Regions from separate parts of the Homo sapiens genome. Here region 1 is linked to region 2. Evidence: fine-mapped expression QTL. A gene starts in region 2. The other region holds a variant in brackets. All regions are shown on one strand. Distances are between the middles of the regions.

What was found. PIP is the estimated chance that this variant, and not a neighbour inherited with it, causes the effect.
Region 1: its variant is fine-mapped to the expression of BTG1 in whole blood (INTERVAL, PIP above 0.99).

Annotation. Positions count from the first base shown.
Region 1 is chr12:92,100,000-92,111,751 of GRCh38, forward strand. All of the region lies in intron 1 of LINC01619 (long intergenic non-protein coding RNA 1619), which reads right to left. Among named protein-coding and RNA genes, the nearest start is that of LINC01619, 37 kb to the right of the region's middle. RefSeq lists an enhancer at 7,711-8,249. The variant G/GT (reference allele first, on the strand shown) is at 8,564.
Region 2 is chr12:92,136,498-92,152,522 of GRCh38, forward strand. It overlaps BTG1 (BTG anti-proliferation factor 1), which reads right to left and starts at 9,349. Exons shown (of 2, transcript NM_001731.3): 1 at 8,891-9,349; 2 at 3,781-7,950. The coding sequence starts at 9,038. The coding sequence ends at 7,583. It overlaps LINC01619 (long intergenic non-protein coding RNA 1619), which reads right to left and starts at 6,334. Exons shown (of 5, transcript NR_132341.1): 1 at 6,110-6,334. It overlaps BTG1-DT (BTG1 divergent transcript), which reads left to right and starts at 9,588. Exons shown (of 3, transcript NR_135036.1): 1 at 9,588-9,746; 2 at 10,165-10,265. RefSeq lists enhancers at 5,434-5,723, 7,751-7,990, 8,011-8,060, 8,321-8,370, 8,330-8,866 and 1 more and a silencer at 8,791-9,110.

The sequences.
Region 1 (11,752 bases), 39 kb before region 2:
TATAATTAAGAACTGTGGACTATTTGGTACAGGAGCTGTGACAGTGACCTAGTATCTAACTGTATCACTATTAGTCTGTTCTCACACTGCTATAAAGACATACGGAGACTGGGTAATTTATAAGGGAAATAAGTTTAATGGACTCACAGTTCCACATGGCTGGGGAGGCCTCACAGTCATGGTGGAAGGTGAAGGAGGAGCAGGGGCACATCTTACATGGTGGCAGGCAAGGGAGCATGTGCAGGGGAACTGCCCTTTATGAAACCATCAGATCTCGTGAGACTTATTCACTGTCATGAGAACAGCATGGGAAAAACCCACCCCTGTGATTCAATTACCTCCCACCGGGTCCCTCCCATGACATGTGGGGATTATAGGAGCTACAATTCCCATAATCCCAAGACGGGATTTGGCTGGGGACATAGCCAAACCATATCACTGACCTAGTCTAAAGGTAGAAAATGGGGAGTGGCAGATCATGGACGGCTTCCCTGAGAAGTGATCGTGGAGTGAGATCTGGAGAATGAGTGACCATTATGCAGCTAAGTACTGCTGGAAGAAAAACCAGGGAGGGCCCTTCTGGCCATGACTATGTTGGGAGAAGGCAGGGAGGCAATCAACTGAGAGGAGGTCTGTGTAGCTGAAGCCCAAAGAGACAGGACAAAGAATAGCAGCAAATAAACTGTGGGGTGTGTCTAGGGAATGACGGGACACAGTCCTGGCTGGAAAATAACATGCATGGCAGGATACAAATTAAACTGGAAATCATGATCTGGGCCTTGCACATTCTGGAAGAATAGGCAAATTAGGCTCAAGAATTTGAATGGCATTCTCTAGGCAATAAGAAATCATTACAGGCATACAGTGACAAGGTCAACCCTGTTTAAGGATGATTGTTCTAGAAGCAATATTGAAACAGACTTTGGCAAAGTGGGAGAGTAGGGAGAGCCCTGGAAGGAAAAGACAATAATTACAGGCAATTGTAATAGCCAAGTGAGAGAGAGCAAGATCCCAAACTAGGGCAGTGGGAAATGGAAGAAATGAACAGGTATAGAGATACTGTAAAGAAGAATCAGCAAATATGAGGGTTAATTGGATATGGACATGAAGGTGATGGGGGATGTTGGGGGAGACAGAGAGAGAAACTCACAAATGAATGAAAAGGTTTGAGCCTGAACATTATGAGGAGGAGGAGAAGGAGGAACATTATGAGGAGGAGGAGGAGGCCGCCAATATCAGAGTTTGGGAATAAGAGGGTTTTGGGAGGACAAGGCAGGTGGATCAATTGAGCCCAGGAGTTTGAGACCAGCCTGGGCAACATGGCAAAACCCCATCAAAAAAAAAAAAAAGAAAAAAGAAAAGCAAGCAAGCAAGCAAGAAAGAGAAAGAAGAAAGAAAGAAAGAAAGAAAGAAAGAAAGAAAGAAAGAAAGAAAGAAAGAAAGAAAGAAAGAAAGGAAAGAAAGAAAGAAAGAAAGAAAGAAAGAAAGAAAGAAAGAAAGAAAGAAAGAAAGAAAGAAAAAGAGGAGTCAGAGGCTTTGTGTGAGATCTGTTTCAGATATGCTGTTAATGGCATCTGGGGCAGCCAAATAGCTAATTCTGATTAGTTACCATCCTTCAAAAGTTGCGTTTGGAAACATAGATATGCAGGTCAGTCAATCGACAATATTTACTGGGTGGCTACTATGTGCCAGGCATTTTTTAGCTTAATTTTACTATGTGCCAGGCATTTTTTAGCTTAACTTTACTTATGTTTATAGAAATGGGGTCTCACTCTGTCTGTCCAGGCTGGAATGCAATGATGCGATCATAGCTCACTGCAGCCTCAAACTCCTAGGTTCAAGAGATTCTCCCATCTCAGCCTCCTGGATAGCTAGGACTACAGGCACATGTCACTGTGTTGAGCCAGGCATTATTTTATACACTGAAGACAGAATTAGAAATTAGACCAAATTTCTGCCTTCATGGGGTATTTCTTGTATATAAAAGGTAGTTTAAAAAAACAAAACCCATACGGAACCAACGGTTATGTCGTTAATCCAAAAATAAGCCATAAACAAGTGATATATAAGCAAGATATCAGTTCAAAGAATTGGTCATTATCTCATATCAAATTCACAAAATACAACTTTGTGAAGGTTAAGTCTCTCTCCTTAGGAGACACATTAGAATGCAAATTCAAATCACCAACTCTCATCAAACAGCGAAGTAGACTCTACAAGCTCCTTGTGAATTTCATCCAGGAATTTAGAGGACACAGCAAAGGACAGGATAAATAATAGATTCCTATTCTCTAGAAAAGAGAAAGAGGACATACCGAAATGCCACTAGCAAGGCCACTTAGACATCTTGGCCCTTCATCAACACTCAGAGTATGTAATGAATTTCAGAAATATAAATAAACCTTCTTTGCCATTTTTACTTCCACAGAGATGCCAAAATTATATCATATGGAGCAGCAGAAGTGCAAGGGCTTTCCGGCCTAATCATTTTTGAAAATGAACAGATAATGAACAAAATATAATATACTACCTAAAATTATCTTCAGAAGGAATGAATAACAAAAGATTATAAAGCCTCAAAATAAAAACAGGATCTGAAAGCAAAAATAAATTAAATAATTTTGATTAATTTAAAAGCTAAACATCAAACAAGGGGAATACACAAACATCTGTATATCTGTATCTGCATATAAAATCAAGGCTAGAGGTTAAAATTTTAATGATAGGAGATTAAAACTAAAATGCCTGATTTGTGCAGCTTGCCAATGGTTTATTAAAAATCTGGTTTATTTAACTAACTGTTGCTAAAGTTTCATGGCAGAGTAAATGTGAATGAACAGCCAACAAAATGTTGACAAATAATTCAGTTCAAACTGGGGGAAGAGGGAGCTTAGTCAACTAGTTATCAACACTACTTCATGTATTTTTTTATTTTTTATTTTATTTATTTATTTTTTTGAGACGGCGTCTTGTTCTGTTGCCCAGGCTGGAGAGCAGTGGCATGATCTCAGCTCACTGCAACCTCCACCTCCCGGGTTCAAGTGATTCTCCTGCCTCAGACTCCTGAGTAGCTGAGATTGCAGGTGCCCGCCACCACACCTGGCTGATTTTCGCATTTTTAGTGGAGACAGGATTTCTCCATGCTGGCCAAGTTGGTCTCGAACTCCTGACCTCAAGTGATCTGCCCACCTCAGCCTCCCAAAGTGCTGGTATTACAGGCGTGAGCCACTGTGCCCAGTCTCAACACTACTGTAAATCTATAATAATTGAAAACAGTGCACATTAGGCAAGCAGATCACAGAAATGAAGAGTACAGACATAGACCCCAGTATGGGAATTCAGTAAATGAAAAAGTTTCATTTCAATCCAATTAAGAAAGAATTGGTTGAAGCCTACATAACTGGTATCAGAATAACGAGCAACTTATTTAGAAAAATAAAATATATTCTCCACAGAAAAGGAACATCTTGACTGCACTGATTTGGCCCCAAGACTTTTTTGCTCTAGTTTTATTAATACAATTTTTTAAAATAATAATTTACCAACACTGATGAATTTTCCATGAGAATTTTTTTGGGGATTAAATCAATTTTATTTTTTCTTAATCAATTTGCCATATAGCATAATTAAAACATTTCTAATTATCACCATTTCTAATTTTTGTTTGTTTTTCTTTTTCCCCATTTCTATTTTTATCTTATTAAAATTATTTTCATTAAGACCAAAATTTATTTTCATTTAAATCTTCTAATGGCTTGCAGCAAATTGTATTTTTTTGAACAAATCTTTCAGTTAAAACTTTTGCTGCTCTTAGGGAAAAACTAGTATTAGAAAAAAATAGAGGCTGGGTACGGTGGCTCACACCTGTAATCCCAGCACTTTGGGAGGCCAAGGAGGGCAGATCACGAGGTCAGGAGATTGAGACCATCCTGGCTAACACGGTGAAACCCCATCTCTACTAAAACATACAAAAAATTAGCCGGGCATGGTGGCGGGCGCCTGTAGTCCCAGCTACTTGGGAGGCTGAGATGGGAGAATGGCGTGAACCCAGGACATGGAGCTTGCAGTGAGCCGAGATCATGCCACTGCACTCCAGCCTGGGCAACAGAGCAAGACTCCATCCCCCCCCCGCCAAAAAAAAAAAGTAGATTTTTTTTATTTTTATAATCTTAGAGTAGAAAAAAACCTTTCTATCCATAACCCAAAGCCAAAGCCATAAAGGGAGTTTTCTTCTACTACCATTGTTTCTATGAAGTCAAATATTACAGATAAAAATTTGTCAAAAATATTTTATTCTGGATGTAACTAATTAATAATTTATTTTTACCATGTGCACTTGTAAATGTCAACTTTAATTTGTGTTGATTACAGAATAGTAAGGTCAAAAATCCTGTATCTGATTATTACCTTACAGTTTATACACAAATAAATTCCAGGTGGATTAGAAATTGTACAGTACAATAATCCTAAATAACAAAATATTCGAGACAAAATAAAAGCAGATTTTTTTCAAAATAACCTTGGAGTAGAAAAAGCCTTTCTATGCATAACCCAAAAAGCAAAAGCCATAAAGAAAGTTTAACAGCTTTACCCAACCCAGATCAGCTCTCATACTAACATTTTCCAAATTTTCCATGGTGGGGAATATTAGGGCTAAGCGTCAGGGTTTCTTGCTGTAAGAGAGGGTGGAAGTAAGGGGTTAATTAATAACAGATGTAGGTGGGACCACTGGATATTCAAAGATCTTTGGAAATATATGTGAGATTGGGATTCTTAAATTACTTTCAAATATTTTTATCATTACAAATGTAACACATAATCACAATTAAAATTCAAAATAAACCAACAAATTTAGCATAAAGTAAAAGTACTCATGACCCTAGAATCTACTTCGAGATAACTACTATTGACAATTCAATAAGTACCATTCCAGCTTTTTGGGTTTTTTGTTTTGTTGGTTTTTTGTTTGTTTGTTCAGCTTTTTTGTTTGTTTTCTTTTTTACTGAGACAGAGTCTCGCTCTGTCACCCAAGCTGTAGTGCGGTGGCATGATCTCGGCTCACTGCAAACTCCACCTCCTAGATTCAAGCAATTCTCCTGCCTCAGCCTCTCAAGTAGCTGGGATTACAGGTATACACCACTACACACAGCTAATTTTTTGTATTTTTTGTAAAGATGGGATTTCACCATGTTGGCTTGGCTGGTTTTGAACTCCTGACCTCAAATGATCCACCCGCCTTGGCCTCCCAAAGTGCTGGGATTATAGGTGTGAGCCACTGCGCCCAGCCATTGTTCAGCTTTTTACTTGTCCTTACATGCTGGACCACAAACCAGAAGTCCAGGTTTCTTTTAATGCAAATACAAAACACTCTTAGATACTTTCTCACATACACCTAATGTTTTTTAATAGGGTCTTATTAGACAGAATTGATCTATCTGGTTTCATTGATTGAAATACTATCTGCACATGTCTGGGCACTCTTCAGTAAGCAAAGGAAAGAAGCAATGTAGACACTGATTAGTAAGTAGAGATTACTGCTACACCAGTACTTTTAGAACCTTTTTTTAAACTTTCTTCTCTTTGATATAAAAGAAATACATGTTTCCCTTAGAAGACATAGAAAAGTACGAAGAGAAAAACAGTCACCCACAATCCACTACACAGAGCCACTGCTGTTAACTTTTGACGAAGAAAGATTCCATACTTAATAGATGCAGAATAGCTGTGGCCAACAATCTTGCAAAAGCTGGAGTTCAAAAAGAAGGTCCCAGCACCGTAAGATACAGTGGAGTCAGTAGAAAGTCATACGACCACACTCCCAGTAACCTCTGATAAATAGGATGAAGAGGAAGTAAAAAAGTGGTCAGCAACTTCTTTTGAGAAATATGCTGTTGAAATTAACAAAGGCAGAGAGCTAAGGGCAGAAAACCGGGCACCTGCTTGGGGATGGACAGATTCATTTCCGTTGGCTCAGACAAGCTTGCAACCTTGGGCTGCCAACCCAACACTGTGGATTGGCAGAGGGAGTCTGGAATGTGAAAATATCTTAATAAGAAGTTTTATCAGATCCCCTCCTTTCCCCTCAAATTTGCACTCAGGGTGCACAGACATCCCTGGAACATTTTAAACCTGAAGTATTTGTTTGAAGGTCTGCATAGGATTTGACTGTGGAGAGGCCAAGTACAGAAAGGAAGCTTTAGAAAGAACTTCAAAAATTCGTTCCATTTTAAACTAAAAAGAGGGGAAAGTGTAGAGGAAATGGTAGCACTGACAACGTTTTTCAGACAAAGGTGATGGAAACCTTGGGATTATGGACAGTTTCTCACCCATCTCAACTTATCCTCAGACTTCAGAAATGGTCAAAAAGGATGGTTTAAGCCAGGCAAAAAGCTCAAAGCAGGGATGGAACTTTTTCTGCAAAGGGCCAGCGAATATTTACTCTTCGGGCTGTGAAGCAACTCCTCATCTCCACAGCTGTTGCACAAAAGTGGTCGTAGAGAATGCACAAATGACTTGGGGTTCCAATAATGCTTCACCCCTGGACACTGACCTTTGCATTTCACAGAATTACCATATGCCACAAAATAGTCTTTTGATTTTTTTTCTGTCATTTAAAAATATTAAAACTCTCCTTAACTTTTGGCTGTACAAAAACGGTGGCAGCTGGGCGCAGTGGCTCATGCCTGGAATCCCAGCATTTTGGAAGACCAAGGCGGAAGGATCGCTTGAGTCCAGGAGTTCTCGAGGCCAGCCTGGGCAACAAAGTGAGACCCTGTCTCTACAGAACATCAAATGTATTAGCTGAGTGTGGTGGCCCAGACCTGTAGTCCTAGCTACTCGGAAGGCTGAAGCAGGAGGACTGCTTGAGCCTGGGAAGTCGAGGCTGCAGCGAGCCATGTTTGCACCACTGCACTCCAACCTGGGTGACAAAGGGAGACTCTAGCTCAAACATAAAATAAAATAAGAAGAAGGAAAAAAACAAAACAAAACAGGTGGCAAGCTGGATTTAGTTCACAGGCTGGCCTGTAGTTTGCTGACCTCTTGTCTAAAAGCAGAGATCCTGACCCAAGTTTATATTCTAACATAGATAAGGGCAAACTGAGAACAGGGAAGCATTTTAAACACGGAATATTTCTGGTAAAATGTGGGGGAGGAGGGGTCTAGATGGTGAACACACTTTTAGTGCCAGCAATTCAGCTGGGATTATAGTGGAGTTGTGGGGGGAGAGAGGTACAGAAGACAGGACGACTCCCCAAAGGAGTCCACACCCAAGGTGTCTCTCCATGGAGTTGGCCCGTAGCAGCAAGGGAGAGAGGGGTGAGAAAACGCCTCCCTATCCAATTATGCATGCTCTACTTTCCCAGTGAATCAGGCCAGTGAAATGATCAGCAGCAGCAAAGTCAAATTTAATTCAGACTTTTTTTTTTTTTTGCATAAGATGAGGCCCTACTTTGTTCCCAGTTCTCAGATCACCTCCACATTAGTAATTCCAGGAAGTCTTTGTTTACCTGTATATACAAGGCTCTTATGCAAATTCTAGCAGCCAGCAAAATAAGCCTGAGCTTGGCCTTGATGGATTTATTTCTCATTTGCTGCAGGCACAGACCACTTCTATTGAAAGGAGAAAAATACCAGCCCCTCCACAGCCGTTTGCCCAGGAGTCCCGGGCCTGCCTGGCAACGAGCCTGTTTGCCCCTTCTCCAGCTCGGGCCTGACATTACCTAGCCATTGAATAGTCTGATGGGAAGGGTTCAATGCAGGGTTTGCACTTTCCCAGCCATTAGCCAGCTGCAACGCATTTCATTAACTTAGGAGTGTTTTGTACATCAAAGAGAGCCCCAAACAGTGTGATCAAGTGGAAGTAACAGTGCCTGGTCAACATTATAACTTGCAGCTTTTTTTTTTTTCATGGATATAATGCCATCTGGCACCCAGGAACAGCAAAGGCCAGTGATGGAAAAACCCCACCACACTGTTTTGCTTATTGGTGTAACAGTTAATCCTGATAAAGGACAATGCCACAGAGCAACTGCCCTGTTATTATCTTGTATGTCTATTGTCTTACCCGGGCCAAGCTGCCCTGAACCGGCAAAAGCAAAGGTTGCACATGGAATTGCCTGGGGAAAAAATATCTAGGAGACCTGGGAAAAAGGATGTTTTGTCTTTTTGTTTGTTTAATTGTTTAGCATGTGCATCCACAAGCACACGCACATGCACACACATACACACACACGGGAAGAGAAAGGGACTTAAAGGCTTAATCTTTGCAGACTTTTTGGGGAAACATTAAGTAGCTGGCTTTGAAATCTACTAACTAGAAGTCTCTTATAACGTAACATCATTATCTTCTCCTACATATCCCCTGCTTTCGATTATTTTGAAAAATCCTTTATCGTCTCAGATTTTAGATTACAGACCACCAAGCATCCTCCAAATAACAGACTTCTAAACTGGTTTCTGGTGGAAAATTTCTCACTGAAACCTTCACTGCTCTTTTAAAATTAAGGAGAAAAAAATTCTGAAATGACAGGTAATAGAGATTCTGAATAAACTCTTCTGTAGT[G/GT]TTTTTTTGGGTAGTTTTCAACTGACAAATTAGGAAATAAAATGCTATGAATACGTTGTTTTTATTTTGACAATCTTTAAAACATAAAAGGACAAAAGCCAAATGGATAATCATCTCCCCCATAAAAGCAGGACAAATGATTGGGTTTATGGTTTTTTTTCCCACAGTTTCAAATGTCATCTCCTCAGTACAGAGACTGTTTATAAACTCTTCAGTGACTTTTTTCTGCTCATTGCACAAACTCCTCCCCTCTTCCTATCTTCCTTACTAGCCCTCCCTTCTCCACTACCAGGCCGCCTCCTCTCTGCAGGAGGGAAAGACTGAAATTTTAAGTAAGACACTTTCTTCTCTGGTGTAAATTCGCGTCAAGGGATGATTTTGCAATTGCCATATGAGCAATTATGTAAGCTTTTCAAAAGCATACAACATTTCTAGGGCAATTGTCATCTACACACAGTTATAACAATCTAGATGGTTTTAAAAATAAGTAGCTGTCACCCAATAACCAACCTGTGGTCTGAAATTTTCCCAGAAAATCCAACTGAATCTCTCTTCTTCCACTGTTTTTCTCTTCACTGTCATAAATTGTAGTAGAATTATAACATGTGTAAGAAAATGTACTAAGTTGCTATTTTAGGTTGGCATGGAAATTGAATTCAAAGAAATAAAGCCCCTAGCAGCCAGTATTAAGAAGAAAGTTCTCCAACCTTAAGTATCCTCAATACAATGACTGTTTTCTTCACTCCTTTCCCTCCCTAAGAATCAGTGAAAAAGAGACAAAATAAGCCAGAATGGAGTGTAACTGAAATTTTTGGCAGTGTGAGAAAAAAAGAGTATATGATAGCCAGCTTTCCGACATGTGGCAATCAGATATTAAAACTTGAATTATTCATTTAAAACATGCTTAATGCTTCACATTTTACAAAATGCTGTGAATCTTGCTATAGAAATAAACATTTGCTGGAAGAAAATTTCAACGGCAGATTAAGAAGCATTAAATTGAGAAGAAACATTAAATCAACTGCTCAAAGTAACTTAATTAATGAAAGAGCATGAATTCAAATCCAGGACTGACTGACTTATTTATTTATTTATTTAGTTAGTTAGTTAGTTATTGAGACAGGGTCTCACTCTGTCACCCAGGCTGTAGTGCAGTGGCATGATCTAGGTTCACCACAGCCTCCGCCTCCCAGGCTGAAATGATTCTCCCACCTCCATCCCCCAAGTAGGTGGGACCACAGGTGCATGCCACCGTGCCTGGCTAATTTTTGTACTGTTTGTAGAGACAGGGTTTCGCCATGTTGCCCAGGCTGATCTCAAACTCCTGAGCTCAAGTGATCGGCCCACCTCAGCCTCCCAAATTGCTGAGATTACAGGCATAAGCCACTGCACTCAGCCCAGGCCTTTTAACTACTAATGTATATTACTCTTGTTATGGCATGCATTCACTCACTAAGCATTAGGTAACTGCCTACCATGGACCAGACACTGTGGCAAACATTTATAAATTTTACAAGTGTAAATAAGAAGAGATTCCTGTTCTCATGGAACTCAAAATCTAAGAGTGGAGGCAGGCATTTAAACTAAGAATTACAACAGAGAGTGAAAGGTACTAAAATAAAGGGGGTAGTAAAGGTCTTCACTCTTCCTGCTTTACATTAATGTTAAAATAATGACCCACTATTGTGTTAAGTCAAATAAGCCTTTGCCCTCAAATTATCCTAGAAAAAAATCAATTACTTGTGGCATGTTTTAAATTCCACATTAGGTCTAATTTAATCTGTTGAGTGCTTCCTCTGATTACTCTGGATTTGTTGGTGCGTAATTTTAAAGTGGGGCTCTGTGGTTTCCCCATTCTCATTGTTCAGAAGAGATGTTCACTGCAGGATTTTGCTGACATGCTAACTATTTTAGCTGAAATTTGGAAAGGAGTGGGCAAAAGGAGACTAGTTTAGATGAGAAAATTACACATAATTCCTTTCCTCTCATTTTGTGAAAATCTTAGACTCACAGTTGCTAGGGATTAGAAAGAACTTTAAGCAAACACCTGTCTTCTGCAAGGTTTTTTTTTTTTTTTTTCATTTTGGAATTTAAGTCCAAGTTTTTACTTTCTAAATTGACTATTCAGTCATCATTTCTCTGTGGAATTAATTCCAGTCTTGAGCTGTTCATTGACATCTTCCCGATAGTTGTTTCAACATCTCAAATGTTCATTCTTTTTTTACTCACAACCAGGTTAAGTGTTCCCAAGGGAAAGTTAGTGACTACCTGGAGTTAGTAACTGGCTTGAGGCAAATGTGGTAAGTGGGAGAGAAATGATCAACAAATACTATGGTGCTTACTTTGAGTCTGACTTGATAGATACAGGAGACAAATGCCCGGACTGCTTGAAATTCAGTACATCTTCCAGAATTTTTAATTCAGCACCTATCAGTTTCAAACTAAGTAAAATCAACGAGATAGAGTAATATTCTTATATGATAGAATTTGTCTTCTTTTCTCTCTAAATTAGTTTTTAAAAGGAAAACAAAACTCAAACTACAATCAGTTAGGCATAATAATTTCCTATAGATCTTCCCTATTTCTCTCTCTCTCTCTCTGTGTGCGTGTGTGTGTATTTCTTTCATCTTTGTCTGTCTCTCTAGACTACAGTGTAAAACTAGAGAAAAGAGAGGCATAAAAGAAAAATAAGCAGTTGAGTCCCATTGTACATACAAAGAACATAAAATACTCTGCCATTATTATTGGTATATTGTTTTTACTGGTTTATAAAATGTTTTCTGATATACATAATAATAACATCTGCCTCACAGAGGTATTGTGAGGACTAAATATACAAGTGAAACTAAAAGATTCTACAATAGTTCCTGGCACATAAAAAGCTGTCAATAAGTGTTAGATGGTATTACTATTATTACTCATGCTAATTATTTTTATCACTGTTATTATTGTCATAGCTTGCTAACCATATACTGAAAATAGTTCAGCAAGTCCAAGTTCATATTTAGTTGATCATAACATACTTAATTTAAAAATGAAGGATTCTATTTCTAAACCCTAAATTACTATCAATACTTATTTCACTAGTGTGGGAACATTCATACTGAATTTCTTCCACAAACTAAAAAGTACAATCATACCTTAAGTATAACTTTATTTGAAGGTTTACTATAATAGATTTGCCGTTAG
Region 2 (16,025 bases):
CTCGCCTGCCTTCTCCACTTAAACCCCTACTCATTCCTCAGATCTCAGCTCAAGTGTCCCTTCCTCTGGGAAACCTTTCTATGGCAGTCCTATCTCTCTATTAGAGCTCTCAGGACACCACTTCACCACTTCCCTTTTCCTCAGCATGTCTCAGATCCAGCCCAACATTTGTTGGATAACCCTCTCTCTGCCACTAGGTTCCAAGCTCATTGAGGGCAAGCACAGTGACTATTTTTGCAACCCTAGTGCTTATCACAGTACTTGGCACATGGAGGGACTCAACAAGTATGTGTTTAATAAATGAATGTAAGAGATATAGGTGATAGACACAAGACAAAACACCACTTGTATATTAATGACCAGAAAATATCTTAAGAAAGTTAAAAAATAACTGAAAGACTTAAAGGGTAGTGGAAAAAAGTGCAAGAATCTGAGAGGGAAAAAGAGCTTGTATCTAGTGATATTACCTAAGAGCTCCATCCTTAATTGTAACAATGACTACCGGCTTGAGAGAGAGAAATATTCCTGACAACACTGGCCACCTAACCCTTGTTTTAATGGGTTCCAAACTCTTATTCTTACATCACAATCTTAAACATTATAGGGGCACACTGACTGACTTATAAGGCTACACACATAGGTTCAAGCATGGCCTGAACCACACACGAGCTTTAAGATGCAAGACTTCTGAAAGGGTCAGAGGCTGATTTTCCCTAGAAGTCTCTTCAGGTTCAACAAAGAATGGGTCCTTTGTTTCCTATAGGATTGCAAAATAAATTAGCACAAAGCTCTGCTGGCTATCTACTTCCCTGATGTAAACCATAATGCTATACAAGCCCAACAGCAAGCTATTCAATGAGGATATCTGCACACAGAAAAAGCAACTTGAGTATAAACTAAAAGAATCCGTGATCACTGACTCATTTATGACTGGCTAGGGGAAATCAGTTACATTATTAGTGATTCAGGCAAACATTGCATCAGGTTACATCACAGGAAGAAACTCAAATTCAAACTGACAATTTATAAAAAGGCTGCTTTTCTTTGCAGTAAAGGAAATACTCACACCACTCTAGATTAAGAAGATTGAGAACCACTGAGTTCTGTTTAAAAATCACTGTTTGAAAATCTCTTGCAAAAGCATGGCCAAATACCAATGGTTTGAAGGACTAAAAACCCTGGGAAAAGTCAACTTCATATAGCAAAGGGTTGTTGTGAGGATTAAAAAACATAATGGAAGCAAACATGCTTTGTACAGGGCTACATTGCTATATATGTTCGGTTGCATTACTCCATCTCTCAACTTAAGGTGTCTTCAATATAGACAAAGGATCTGAAGGACTCTTTTTTTACTGAGAAAATAGCTCTGAAAACCACAATGTTAGGCACACAGCTCAGGAAAGCTCTATAAAATAAGATGCAAGGCCTGTGTTGTCTATTTCCATCCTTCACAATGGAAAAGCAGTTCATTTTCCTTCCTATATTATTGTATTTCAAAAACGCAAGTACATTTCTTGCAGCTATAGGCTAAAGCAATCTTTCAAGAAACTCCTAACAATCATACTATGATCAAATTGTTAAAACACACACACACACACACACACACAAGAAAACAATCAGCTATATTTTGTTGGCCTCCATGATAGAGTATTCAAATTCCAAGAATCCAAACATTCACTAGCTATATGATTTCATGTTTACCTTGACAACAAATGACTTGTCTCCATTATTACACAAGGAATGATGGGCTCAGAGAGGCTAAGCAACTGGTCCAAAGTCACAAGTTGGTACAAGTCAAGATTTCAACTTATTGGTCTGAGTCCCAGACTAGTATTCTTTATGCTAAATTCCAACTGCCTCTCAAAGAAAGGAGCCTAATTGTAGACTGCTATATGCCTCCGGAACATAGTGAAAGAGTTTCAAGGCTGAAAATAACCAAAGATGGCCAACTCACAATGAGAAGTTAAAATACATGTTCCAACAGTGTAAAAGAAGGTAGATAAATCATGCATCACAATGTAACAATAGTTAAGAGTTTGGATTCTGTGATCAGAAAAGCCTGAATTCAAATTGTGAATTAGCTGTTTACGAGCTGTCTGGCTTTAGGGTAAATTACTTAAGCTCTCTAAGCCTCAGTTTTCTATCCATAAAATGAAGATAAAAAATACTGACCCACTTGCCAACCTCATCCAGTTGTTGGAAGGTCAAATTAGAATATATATTGATAACTTGAAGACTCACAAGTACAATTTGTGGGAAATACAACTCCATTTAGTCTACTGACTTGGGACAAAACTGCCATAAATCAAGACAACTACTAGAAAGTGTACTCAAATCTGCTCATAAAGCAATTGTCAAGTCTAATCATTTTATGGCTTATGGTCATTTATGGAATCTTCTCAAATAAAGTCCAATTTGTTAGTCATCTTTTCCTTCAAAAATTTAGGGATGGCTCAGAACAAGAGGGAAAAGATACAGGGCCTTTCTTGCTAAGCCATAACTACTAAAATAATTAAATCACCCATCTACAACTTCGATAATTCAGTTCTCTTACAACCATGCATATCAATGTTACAAAGACCCTAAGATTTAAAAAAAAACTTCTGAGAAACAAAAATGTGAATTTCAACACACAGCAACACATAGTTGAATATATGGGAACATAGATTTCAAATTGGTGTAACACAATTTGGATATCTGTTGGCTGTAAAGGATGACTTAGTTTTATTATTATAAAGACTTATGCAAATAAGTTAAACTTATACAAGGCAATCCTCTTTGTATTGCTACACTAACTTGTCATTTTAAGACTTACCACTTAAAGAACATAATTATGAGTTATTTTGGGGAGAGCAAATATTCATCTACTTTAGTGAAAACCTAAAGAAATAGTCTCTAAATGTTTCTGATCATGCATCCTATCAACAAAATTTTTAGTGTATGTCAAATATATGTATATTTGTTTAGAAAATGTGCCACATGCTTTTGCATGCACACATGAAAATACATACAAAAATATTCTAAAAGAATGACAAAATAACTTTGGAGATGACCATCTAGAGAATCACTAAAAGTAAATGTACTCACGGGTGAAGTATCTCCTATTAATGCTACAATTTGAAATTATACATAGTGTTTGATGTAATATTCTCCAAATACAGGGATCCAGTTAACTATAATGGTACTAATGTGATGTTATATGTCTGGCCTACACTTGGTCATTTTTCTACCACCAGGAATGAGTCACAAATGGCCTTCACAACTTAAAGGTACAAGAAAAGAGGCTATAATCAAGTGGTTTGTAACAAGACACCTTTAAAAATAGTCTCCCTTTAGAAAATACTGAGACATTTGTGCTTTCCATCCACACCTCCCCCAAAACCAGTTCCCATGAAGTTCCACCTGTACTACCACTTTCACCTGCATGTTCACAGAAACAAATTGAATGCAGAGTCTCCCTGACGATTCATGAACTGCAGAATCCCCAGAGTAGAGATTCCTAAACTCTGCCAAGAGACTGTGCTGTGCAAACCTCTCGATACACAACTATGACCATAGCAAATGAATTTTTATCACCAAACCTTGCAATTCCTTCTCAGTTTAGCTTCCCAGTTTTCATTTTCCCCATCCTTTCCCTTTTTATCCAACTCTAGATTCAAATCATTTCACCTTTGAGCATCAGTACTCTCTTCTAAGCATACGTAATTCCCAAAAGAACACTGCATCTTCAATACTAAAATGATAAATACCATGAAAAGGCTCATAAATAACAGTCAGAAGTTGAACTACATTTTTTTATTCCTATCTTGGACATACTGAGCAATACGAAAAGTGATAAGCCAAGTTAAACCTGCAGTCAAAAAAAAACTGGTGTCAATCATACTCCACAAAGTGTTGAGGAAATGGTATCAATCCTCAGGATTAATACAATCTAAGGCTTACTTGTTTAGGAGCATTTCAAAAATATAACACTTAACATCAGAAGAAAATGATCTATAGGGATAAAGAAAATAAAGATCTATAGGCATAACCAGAAATCAGATCTCATAATGTACAGATTTCTCTATTTACAGTCCCATATATTAAATGATTTAAGGACTCAGTTAAGCAGCTGGGTCGGCTGGTATTACAAACTATCTTACTGTAAAAGATTTTGTGATACTGTTATATTAGTTCCAAATATGAAAATAAACCGGTTATATTTTGATAGCAGCCATATATAAAAGTTCAGTGGCAGAGACTGAGAGATAAGTCTAAAATGTTGGCAGTCTGTATACCTTCAGATAAATAAGAAATCTATTCAGTTTTAGACAATCCAAGATATACTTTTTGAAGACTTCCATGCATAGATAAAACTATTGACAAATGTTCTCCATATAGCCTATCAAGAGGATTTTATCACATCATTTGAAATAGGGGTGAAAAGGGGAGAGGAAGTATCTTTAAACTTCAATATGCAAAGTACAACTTCAGTTATCATACCTCTCTTCTGTAAAGAGGAAGAAGAGAGAGTATCAGAAATGTTAAAAGTCACGCAGGGAGAAGTCCAATAGTAGATTTATTTGCTCCCAAGATTAAAGGGAGCCTGGAAACCTGTAGTCATTAAACACTAGCCATCGGGAATACGGCTTCCTTCCTTTTAACTTGAAGGCCAATTTCATAAACTGCAACACCTATACAAAACAAAATTAATTACTTGCAATGTGTGAGTTATAATGACTTAAGGAAACTATTTGTGCAATGTACCTGAAAGCCACTTTCTGGTGGCCTTTCCAGTCTATTATTATAGAAATATTGCACATAAGGATAAAGACATGAGATTCCCATTCCAGATGACAAAGATAACAGCCGCATTATCCTGCATGAACCAGGGTAACTCTTGCTATACAATCCACTTGAAGCCTTGTTTCAACATTACAGAGGGAGGCACTACTTAAATTTGGAAAAAAGGAAATAATTTCAAAACTACCTGTTAAAACTTAGAAAGTAACACTCCTCAAACTTACTGCCAATCACAACTATGAATTCCTGGTGCCAAAGGCAACAATAATTTTGAAAGTAGTCATCCTATCTTAAAAGGATTTATAATAAAATATTTCAAAACATTCCCCAGAAACAGTGAACAAGAAATACATCACAAACAGCTACTGTACCGCAGATACAGGTTCAGCTCAATTGTCTGGGGAAGGTAAGGTTAAAGTCACAGGAAACAGCTGGTCTCAGAGTGATGTGTGCAAGCCTTTTTCAAAGACAAACTTATAAACAGCTCCTCACAAGCCAGACATCACCTGAATTCTAAAATAAACATTTTTATTAACTGTTTCCATCATTTTCAAAGATTGAAAAAGTCTGATGTCAAGATCTTCAAAAACAACTTTCCATTTGAAAAAAGGCTTTATGATAAAAAAAAAAAATGGTTGAGGTACTTAGTTTCAATGGAGTTACCAGATGAAATGTAGTTGGTAAACAACAGTAGTCAGCACTGGGGTGAGACCCATTTAAAAACAACCCTACCTGGTGTTTTTATTGTAATTCAAGTTTGAAATACCGAGGAGCTTTTTCACAGAATAGGTTTAAAAATAAAACCATAACAATTGGCAAGGGTAGTCCATGTGTTGCGGGTCTACGAATTCTAACTCTCGAGAATGGTGTGCCAATAATATCCACAGACATTTGTACTCTAAATACCTGCATATTCAGTGGCCTATTCCTGTGTTGTCTACAAAATCAGAATAATTTATTCCTGGGTGTAGAAATAACTTCTTAAAAGTTATTTGAGATTACTAATTTCAAGTAATTACTAATTTTATTTCAGACTGCGTATTTCCAGTGTCAACATGTTTACATATATACCAAAAAAAGGCCACTATATGTTAACTGTGTAGAGCAAAATTCAATTTTTCCACTTTCAATTTCCACTGAAAAACGCTGTTATCCTCTACAACTAAACAGCAAGTCCTTCTATTATATGGGGTAGTGAAGTAATCTACACTACAGCATTATCAAGGTTCACTTAGGTTTTTAGTATTTATCTGAAATAAAAGTCTGAAAATGAGGAATCGAGAAAGTCAGCATTTCAACTTTTGAGAATAAAAGTTCATAAACATACCTTTTGTTGAATTCCAGCTTATGTGATTTTTATGTACATCTTGCAGGTGATGAAAAGCAAAAAGCAACCAATCTCTCTGTGGTGTTTAGCCTGTTCTTTAAGACTATGGGTCACCTGCCCCGGGGAAATTTCTAATTGAACAAAGAATCCATGGGGCAAAGTAATTGTTTTTCAAAGGTGGGTCAGAATGGAACATTTATATCTTCACTTCAACAGGGAAGCAATGAAATGTAATCCTTTGAGTATCACATTTTTGGTAGATGCTACCGTGGTCTCTTATCCTTATTTCATGAGATCATTAGCCTGTGAATGTGTCCATGTTTTGACTTTAGAAATTTTTAAAACATGCTACTCCTGTGTTTCCTGTAAAACCTAAACATGTATATACAGAGCATCTTCATTCCTCATCAAATGTTTTTCCAGCATGACCAGTGTGCAACAGAGATTCAGTTTATAGAACCTGTCTTCTAAGAAAAAATACTTTTAGCTAAACCTCTATAATCATGACAAGAGATTGATTAAAATGCCAAGATAAGAAACGATTTATTATAGAGAGAAGAAAAATTTCTCATCCAAAATATAGAAATCTGTACAACTTTGCCACAATCAATATACATGAACTGTACAAATTTACACCAGTTCATAATTTACCAAATAAAAGATGACTAACAAAGTTCACAAAATAGATGGTGGTTTGTGGAAAAGACTTTTACCCAATTAAGTACAAGGAAAGTTACAAACCAGACCTCCACTTTCTAAAAATAAGAAGTTTACTCAGTCTTAGAAAACTACAAGCTAGCAAATGTACAGAGAGCTGGCTGGTGCTAACACCACAGTTGAGACAGTGTCTTTTTAAGGGTCTTTTTTAAAGCCTGTTGCCATGGCAGATTCTGGTCACTTGCTACTTTCAAGGCCAAAAACACAATACAAGGTCTGACCATTTCCCCAGGTCATGCTTACTAGTTTGTCTTTATGTACATTTATACATATTTAAGTGCTAGGTAAAAGTCTTGTAAAATTTCCAGTACTACCATGTTTAAAACGTTTAACTTTCCTATTAAAAGCTGCCGAAAAGGTTAACAATAACAACTTTCAAGTGTAATAGTGCAAATTCCCCTGCGAGATTTACTGCAGAGAAAGATTCTTTGAAATACAGATTTTCTTTAAAAGGATTGATGTAAAAATTTAGGTATGTCTGGGAGAAACTGAAACCACCCTAGGACTTCCCTCCCTAGCAAATAAAGTGATCATTTACTTGGACTCACAGGCTATTAAAATTAATCATTGAAAGGTACTGTCCAAACTATGGCACTGTCACTTAAAATTTTTTTTTTTTTTACCATTCTATCTTGTGCCAGATCTTCACAGCTGTGACATGGTTTAAATTCCATAATCCATCCCCAAGAGGAGCCCACCCAAAGCAAAAATCAAATTTATCCATCATCATCAGATGATCCATCCACAGACTATATCTTAACCTGATACAGTCATCATATTGTAGTTTTTGGAAGGGCTCGTTCTGCCCAAGAGAAGTTCCTCCTTACAGCTGATTCGGCTGTCTACCATTTGCACGTTGGTGCTGTTTTGAGTGCTACCTCCTGCTGGTGAGGCTTCATACAGCACACAGATGGAGCCATCCTCTCCAATTCTGTAGGACACTTCATAGGGGTCAACCCAGAGTGTGAGTTCACTTGGGAGAAGCCTGAACAGCTCCTGACTGCTCAGTCCAATCCGCTGTGCTGCCTGTCCAATCAGAGGATCCATTTTATGGTTGATGCGAATACAACGGTAACCCGATCCCTTGCATGGCTTTTCTGGGAACCAGTGATGTTTATAATGTTCTATAGAAGAAAAGAAGAACAGAGAAACAACGCTTAGGATCGTTAGCTCCCACTGCGGATTCCTCCTACCCCAGGCTCCTTTGAGGAGCGAAAATGAAAACTATCAACTTTTTAAAATGTCCAGGATTGCATCCGTTGTTGTGCATGTGCGGGGATGGAAAAAGCGGGCAGGGTTTTAGAAATAACACAGTAGTACCGGACAAAACAATCTCCAGGAACCAACCGGTTGAGCCGCCAAAACAGGAATCAGGCGCGCAGCCTCGGCCAGTCGGGAAGCCACTGGCACCTATGGCCAGGCGAGAAACTGTTTACTTTCTCCACCCCACCCCAGATGCACACAATGGAGTTGATGGCTTTGGAGATGAGAAGCGCCACCGGACTGTTAACCCCGAAGGGAAGAAAAACAAGCAACCCTAAACCACGCTCTGGGCAGGGCTGTTAATTGTGCCGGTGACAAATCCGATGATTAATGGGCAGGGGCAGGAGGCGCGGGGAGACGGCACGTCCGTTCTGAGCTGGCTCCGGGGCAGCGGCGCAGCTTCCCACCCCGGGGCTGGGCCGCCGACCACGCAACGGTTGGAGGGGGCTGAGGAAAGGGGACGTCGAACCCACCCCAGCCCCACGGCTCCTTTGTCCCCAAATCCGCCGACGGTCCTCGGACCGCAGCTCCCGCCTCGGTGGGCTTAAGTTTCTTTGTTGTGCGTGTTGTCTTCTCCTCTCCGTTTTGCCAGCTGGGGGGAAGGGGGCGCCCTCCGTCCAGCCCCTAAAGCCTCGCGGGGAACCGCTGTTAGCGGCCACCCAGCGCAACCACACCGGTCCCGCGGCGGGGCCCAAGCGCGACCGGCCCCGGGGCGCTGCCGAGGTTCCCGCAGCCCCGACGGCCGGACTCTGACCCAGGGATGTGGGGCCCGCGTCCCTCCGACGCCCTCGCCCTGCTCACCTGCCAGCAGCTCCTGCAGGCTCTGGCTGAAGGTCTGCAGCTGTCGCTCGCTCGTGAGCCCCTTGGTGCGGAGAAACTTGGAGATGAAGGACACGGCGGCGGCGATCTCGCCTATCATGGTGGCGGCCCGGGTGTAGAAGGGATGCATGGGGGCGGCGTGCGGGGGCGGCCCGGGGCGGCTGGGGCTCGGCGGCGCGGCCCCGACGGCGGAGCAGCCACCCCGGGCTTCCTCACCGGGCGGAAGGCTGAGAGGAAGAGAGGGCGTGAGGGGCGGACGACTACTTTTGTCTTTCTTTCTTTAGACTAAAAAAGTTATTTTCGAGACAGGAGGCGGCAGGAGAGAGGAAGAGACGAGCGATGGCGGCCTGGTCACATCGCTCGGACCTCCCCAGCTGCCTCCGCCTCCAGCTCCGCAGCATTCGAAGATCTCAATAGCTGCATTTCCAGCTCCGAGAGGCGAAGAGATGCAAGCGCCGTGCAGCACCCTTTATAGTGCCACGAAAAGGAAGTGGCGTAGCTGGAGCGTGATGGCCGACTCCAGCCAATCCGAATATCGCACCATTGTGACGCAAGCCGGTTCGGAGCCGAAAGGGGCGGGAAAAGAGTTCAGGAGGCGGGTCCAGAGATAGGGAAGAGAGGGAGGAGCTGACGTAATCCGCTTGTAAACAAATAAACCCGGAGTGGCGGCTGGAGACCCAGTTGCTTGTGTCGAGGGAGGGAGGGAGGGAACAGAGGGTGCGCGTGTGAAAGCTCCGCCCCCAGCCCTAGCTCCTCCTTCCCGCTTCAGCAGGTCCAGGCTCTGCGCCAGTGCATCCTTCTCCAAGAGTGCGCTGCCTGGGCCCGCTTGCCCTGGAGTGTAAGTGCTGGGTAAATAAGAACCGCCTGGCGCAGGCTGTGTCTACTCTTCACGCCGCCTTCTCAGATCGGGCTGCATGTCCCCACTCCGTGTTTACATCTCGTTCCCGCTCCGGGTCTCGGTGACTGGCTCCTCAAGCCGGAGACGCGTGTGGTGCGGCGCGATGCGGGCGCCAGCGCTGTGTGTGCTGGCGGTGCGCTGCCTTAGTGCGGGGGAAAGTGGAGGGAACGGTCCTGCGGGGCGTTCTGTCCAAGAAAAAGGACTGCAGCCTCGGGGAGCCAGGGTCCCCTCGCAGACGAGCTGCCAACGCCGCGGAGCCATTTCTGTTCCACCCTAGGGGAGGAGTAGGGGGATATCTTTTAAAAGTTTAATTGCAAAATAAGTAGGTTAGTAAGGCCATTTGTGGTTGCTGTTTCAGTAACTTCAGCAGTCAACGGAGAGAAGAGTGGAAACCTTACTGGATGCGGACAGGAGAGCCAGTTACTGAAAGCAGATATAACGCGGATCCTGTAAAGAGTGGTGTGTATCCAAAAAAAAAAAATCTGTACAATGTATTTTAAAACTTGTGTGCACAAAACTGAAGATTTTCTTTTTTACCTAGTCCAAATGCCGTCCTAGCCTGAGTCCTGCTCTTTATAAAAATAAAATAAAAAGAATTTGAAGCTTGTGAAAGTATTAAGTGTAGACATTCAAGTTTATTTGAAACCCTACCAAAAAAAAAAAAAAACAACCTTAAAAACCAGTGTAACAGGAAGGCGGGAGCCTGCTAAAACGATTAGGCCTAAGACAGGGTTAACCCCAACTCCATTAAGGAGAAGGGGGAAAAGAAAAAAAGAAAGATGAAGGGAGGCAGGCAGATGGAGAAAGCAAACAGGAGGCAGAAGTTGAACTCTACCAGATGGAAATAAATATCCCGACCTTAGTTGATCATCAATATTGCAAAACACACCACTTTGAGTGTTTTTTTTTTCTTTTTAATACTGAGCTAAAGGATATAGAAATGAAGCAAAAATAATGACATTATAAAACAGGAGAAAACGTTTTATTGTTTAAAAAATATGTAAAACTCGATTTGAAAAAATAACTTCTAGATTATTTTTTCATTAGTACACATAACTAAGTAGTTACATGTGAAAAAATTAAAGAGTGGTTTTTTTTTTTCTTATAGAACTTTTCAGATAGAACTCTGCTTAAAAATAGTAATTTCACTGGAGGCATGAAACCTCTTTTACTACTCAAAAAGAAGATCGAGAAGCAAAAGTAAATTCATGAAATTACCATAACACTAGAATAACAACTCCTGGTCTCCCACCTAACCTGACCCACCCTTAGTTCCCTGCTTTCACTTACATTGTCGTTAATGTGTCACTGAGTACAAATTAGGAGTCAAGTGAAAGTTTTTCTCTTCTAAACCTGGTCTCCAACTTGGCCTCTCGGTCATGTGCTTAAATTGTCTCATCTAAAAAACAGAAATATTAAATCAACAAAATGCTAGGATTGGACTCAGACTTCCCCCAAGCCCTTGTTCTCCATACTATTTTTAACTGCCTGCACTAGCAGCAGCAGGACCCCTTCTGAAAGCCTTATAAAACCAGTTGAACAGGGTTAACAGAAAGTTTAACCCATAGACTCAGGGAGAGTTACTTCCCGCACTGAGTTTTTCAAATTATATATGTGTGTTTCCCACCTTAAATCATCCCATTAGGAGACAAACTGATTTGAGAAACTACAGTAATTTTTAACTTGGGAATCTACAGAGTACTCAGAAAAAAACTGGAAATAAACATTAGTCTTAAACGTAAGCCTTAGATGGTACATAATGTTCATTGCTAATAGTTTTCAATTCCTGACATATATATGTTTAGTCACATTTTCTGGAAGTTTAGTCAGGCCCTTCCCATCTGGGAAACAAGCAGGTATTTCTGGACAGCTTTTGAATTACAAAGGTGCTTTCTGTGTTGTTGTGCTAAGTTTACCAAGGCTCTCCCAAGTACTTTATTATTATCATGCAATTTGATAGTAATTTATGAAATTTTTTTTTTTTTTTTTTGAGATAGAGTCTCGCTCAGTCACCCAGGCTGGAGTGCAGTGGCGCGATCTTGGCTCACTGCAGCCACCGACTCCCAGGTTTAAGTGATTCTCCTGCCTCAGCCTCCCGAGTAGCTGGGATTACAGGCATGCACCACCACGCCTGGCTAAATTTTGTATTTTTAGTAGAGATGGGGTTTCACCATGTTGGCCAGGCTGGTCTCAAACTCCTGATCTCAGGTGATCCACCCGCCTCGGCCTCTCAAAGTTTAGGGATTACAGGCGTGGGCCACCACGCCTGGCCTGTCTAATTAATTTCTAAAACTTAGAACATTTCTAATCAAAGTATTAAAAATCTTAGGAATGCTGTCAAAACAAATTCAAAAAATGAACCTGGGTTTTAAAATAAGTTGACAAATAAAAGCACAAATATTAGATATTGTTTCCCCAGTTGGACCCGCCCTTTCCCTGAAGGCACATTAGGGCCAGGGCCTTCCAGACTGAGCCAGAGGCAACCTGCCTGTTGCTAGTCAGCTAGCTGCAGTCACTAAAGTTGTGCTTATTACGCACCTACTTCCAGATAGAGTGCTAGGTGTCTAGAAAACTCACAACTTAACCAATAAGTACAGAGTCAAGTGAGAGTTCTTGAGAGAGTGTTAATGGCAAATAGAGACAGGGCACTTATTTATTTGTGTGTTGCGGGGCAGAGGGAAAATAAGAAAACCCCAAAAGTGAATGATCTCAGCTAAGCCAATGAAAGTGACCCAAGATTAGTTCTCCTTGGAGGAAAGGAACGGGCTTGATCTTGGAGTATCTCAAAGGCATAAACCAAGGAGGATAAGTATTGTTGAAAAAACTGGTAGATGGAGGCAGGCATAGGGTACTTGAGAGTACTCTTGAGAGTGTTTTTAGCAGACAGATTATATGATCAGATTTATCTTTAAATAAGTTAGCTTTTCTTGTGGGCTTATGTCTTCAACTAGATACCTATGCCTCTTATTTATCTATTTTTTTGTTACCCGCAGAAAGGAGAAGACCACTTTTAGTTGCCTCCCTGCTAGCACCCTGACTTGCTCTGCTTGAATAAGAATCCAAGGACACAAGCTAAGACATTTGCACTGGGTTTAGATCTACTGCGATTCACAAAACACAAAAGAACTTTCAGTCAGAGGGTGACACATAATGATTTTAGACAAAACTCAGTTTCTTCTGGTGGAAGCTATTCAGATTGTTTGGAGAGTGGGAGGAAAAAGGAGTGAAGCATCGCTTAACAACAAAAGTAATAATGCAGGTTATTATCATTTTATCATTAACAATGCATCAGTGCTAAGTGTTTTACATGCTTTCTATCTCTCTCTTTTTATTTATTTATTTATTTATTTTTTTTTTTGAGACTCACTCTGTTGCCCAGGCTGGAGTGTGGCGGTGCGATCACAGCTCACTGCAACCTCCGCCTCCTGGGCTCAAGCTTATCTTTCCACTCAGCTTCCTGAATAGCTGGGACTTCAGGCACGTTCCACCACGCCTGGCTAATTTTTGAATTTTTTGGTAGAGACGGGGTTTCACCATGTTGCCCAGGCTGGTTTTGAACTCCTGGGCTCAAGCGATTCACTCACCTCAGCCTCCCAAAGTGCTGGAATTGCAGGCATGAGCCACCGCACCCAGCCATGCTTTCCCATTTAATTCTCTAAGAAACCCAATCGAGTGAGTATAGTTGACAGCATTTAACATATAAGAATACAGTCTTAAAGAAAATAAGTAATTTACCCAAGGTTTTACAGCCAGATTTGAACTCTCAAGTCATGGACTACAAAATTTGAGCTCTAAATACCTGGTAGGGTTTTCAAGGGAGCTCCTGATATTACCTTTCCTAAAAAGGACCTTGAGAAATAAAACCTGATAAAGTTAGAAGACCATCTGGAGATGAGTAGAGATAGTAGTAGGAAAAAAAAAATCAAAACTCAAGGCAGCTGAGGGGACATCTCATAGCTGACATAATCTGTAAGATACAGCTACATTTATTAAAAGGCCCACTGGAAAATGAAACAAGGAACATATTAAAATGTTAATCTGCCAAATAATTTAACTGGAATGAAAATTATCCCTAGGTACAGATAAGAGAAAGTAGCAAAAGTGCTTTCTATTTAAGACCATTTAAACTTTTCATTTCCCCTTTGGCCTAAATTGACAAAAGGAACCAGGGGCCTGGTCAGTTCCACAATCTCTCTTGCCCAGCAACTGAGGCGGGCCCTGGAGGGTTCGGTGGGGGAGGTGGGAGGGCAGCAAGGAGGGATGGTTTTGTGTCCAGGTCACTGTTGAATCTGATCAGTGGCCTCCGGGAATTCTCACTCAACTTTCTACTGCATAGCTGCAGGGCCATTTCTCAAAGCTGGGCTCCTCCCCAAACCTTCTCCTTCCTGGTGCCAGAACCTCCTGGCCTATCTCTTTTTAAAGCTCTCACCGTCTATATTGTCACCGGAGGCAACCACGTGGTGGTCAGGGTTACTGAGTGTTTATCTGCACCCCCCAGCTGCCAAAGACCTCTTCAATTTTAAGGTTTAACAGTAGACAGCCGGGCGCGGTGGCTCACGCATGTAATCCCAGCACTTTGGGAGGCCGAGGCGGGCAGATCACGAGGTCAGGAGATTGAGACCATTCTGGCTAACACAGTGAAACCCCGTCTCTACTAAAAATATAAAAAAATTAGCCGGGCGTGGTGGCGGGCGCCTGTAGTCCCAGCTACTGGGGAGGCTGAGGCAGGAGAGTGGCGTGAACCCGGGAGGTGGAGCTTGCAGTGAGCCGAGATCGCGTCACTGCACTCCAGCCTGGGCGACAGAGCGAGACTCCCTCTCAAATAAAACAAAACAAACAAACAAACAAAAAACAGTAGAGTGGGGAAAGAGTTAATAAGAATTAACTCTGGAACATTGGAAACTTTGAAAAATCGTACAAAGTTCTTACAAATTATGATCCTGGAGTATAGTATTTATAACTTTCTGAAGGGGGAAGTGGGGTACATGGACCTCCCCTTCCTTGTATTCATTTAGTTTTTGAAACAGGGTCTCTCACTCTGTCACCTAGGCTGGAGTGCAATGGCAGGATCACAGCTCACAGCAGCCTCTACCTCTCGGGCTCAAGTTATGCACGGCCACTCCCCCCACCCCTACCCCGCAGCCTTGCCCATCTCAGCCTCCTGAGTAGCTGGGACTACAGGTGCGCGCTACCATGCCCAGCTAATTTTTTTGGTTTTTGTAGAGACAGGGTTTCCCTATGTTGCCCAGGCTGGTCTTGAACTCGTGGGCTCAAGCGATCCTCCCTCCTCAGCCTCCCAAAGTGCTAGGATTACAGGCGTGAGCCACTACGTTCAGCCTCCCCTTTCCCTTAAACTAATGAAGCAAGGGATTGGGACTTCTCACTGGTTCTCCCAATGTGTTCCCCAAACCAGCAGCATCAGAGTCTTCCTGGGAACTTGATAGGAATGCAAAATTTTGCCTTCATTCTAAACCTGTGAATTAAAAACTCTGGGGATAGGGTACTGTCTAGGTACTAATGTTGGAGAACCATTGCTGTGAAAAAGTAATGGCAAAATTCTGTAATTAAAAACAACACTGAAGAGATACCTGCACTTCCATGCTTATTGCAGTACTATTCACAATAGCCAATATATGGAATCAACCTAAATGCCCATCAGTGGATGAATGGATAAAGAAAATGTGGAATATATACACAATGAAATATTCAGCCATTAATAAAAGCATGAAATCCTGTCATTTGCAGCAACTTGAATGGAACTGGAGGTCATTATGTTAAATAAAATAAGCCTCCTTTTTCCTGTGCTGGAAAAACAAAATAATTTTAGAACAATTGAAGAAAAATAAGCCAAGCACAGAAAGACAAATATTGCGTGTTCTCACTCATATTGGGAGCTTAAAAAGTGGATCTCATGGGGATGGAGAGTAGATTGATGGCTAGATGGCTACTAGATGCGGAGAAGGCTAGGTAGGAGAAGGGATGAAAAGAGATTCACTAATGGGTACAAAATACAATTAAATAGAAGATTTACTATCTAGCATTTGATAAATCAATACAGTGACTATATTAAATAGTAATCTATTTTATATTTCAAAATAGCTATTAGAGAATAATTTGAATGTTCTCAGTATAAAGAAAAGATAACTGTGTAATGTGATGGATGCCCCAATTACCCCAGTTTGATTATTACCTATTATATGAATGTGTCACAATATCACA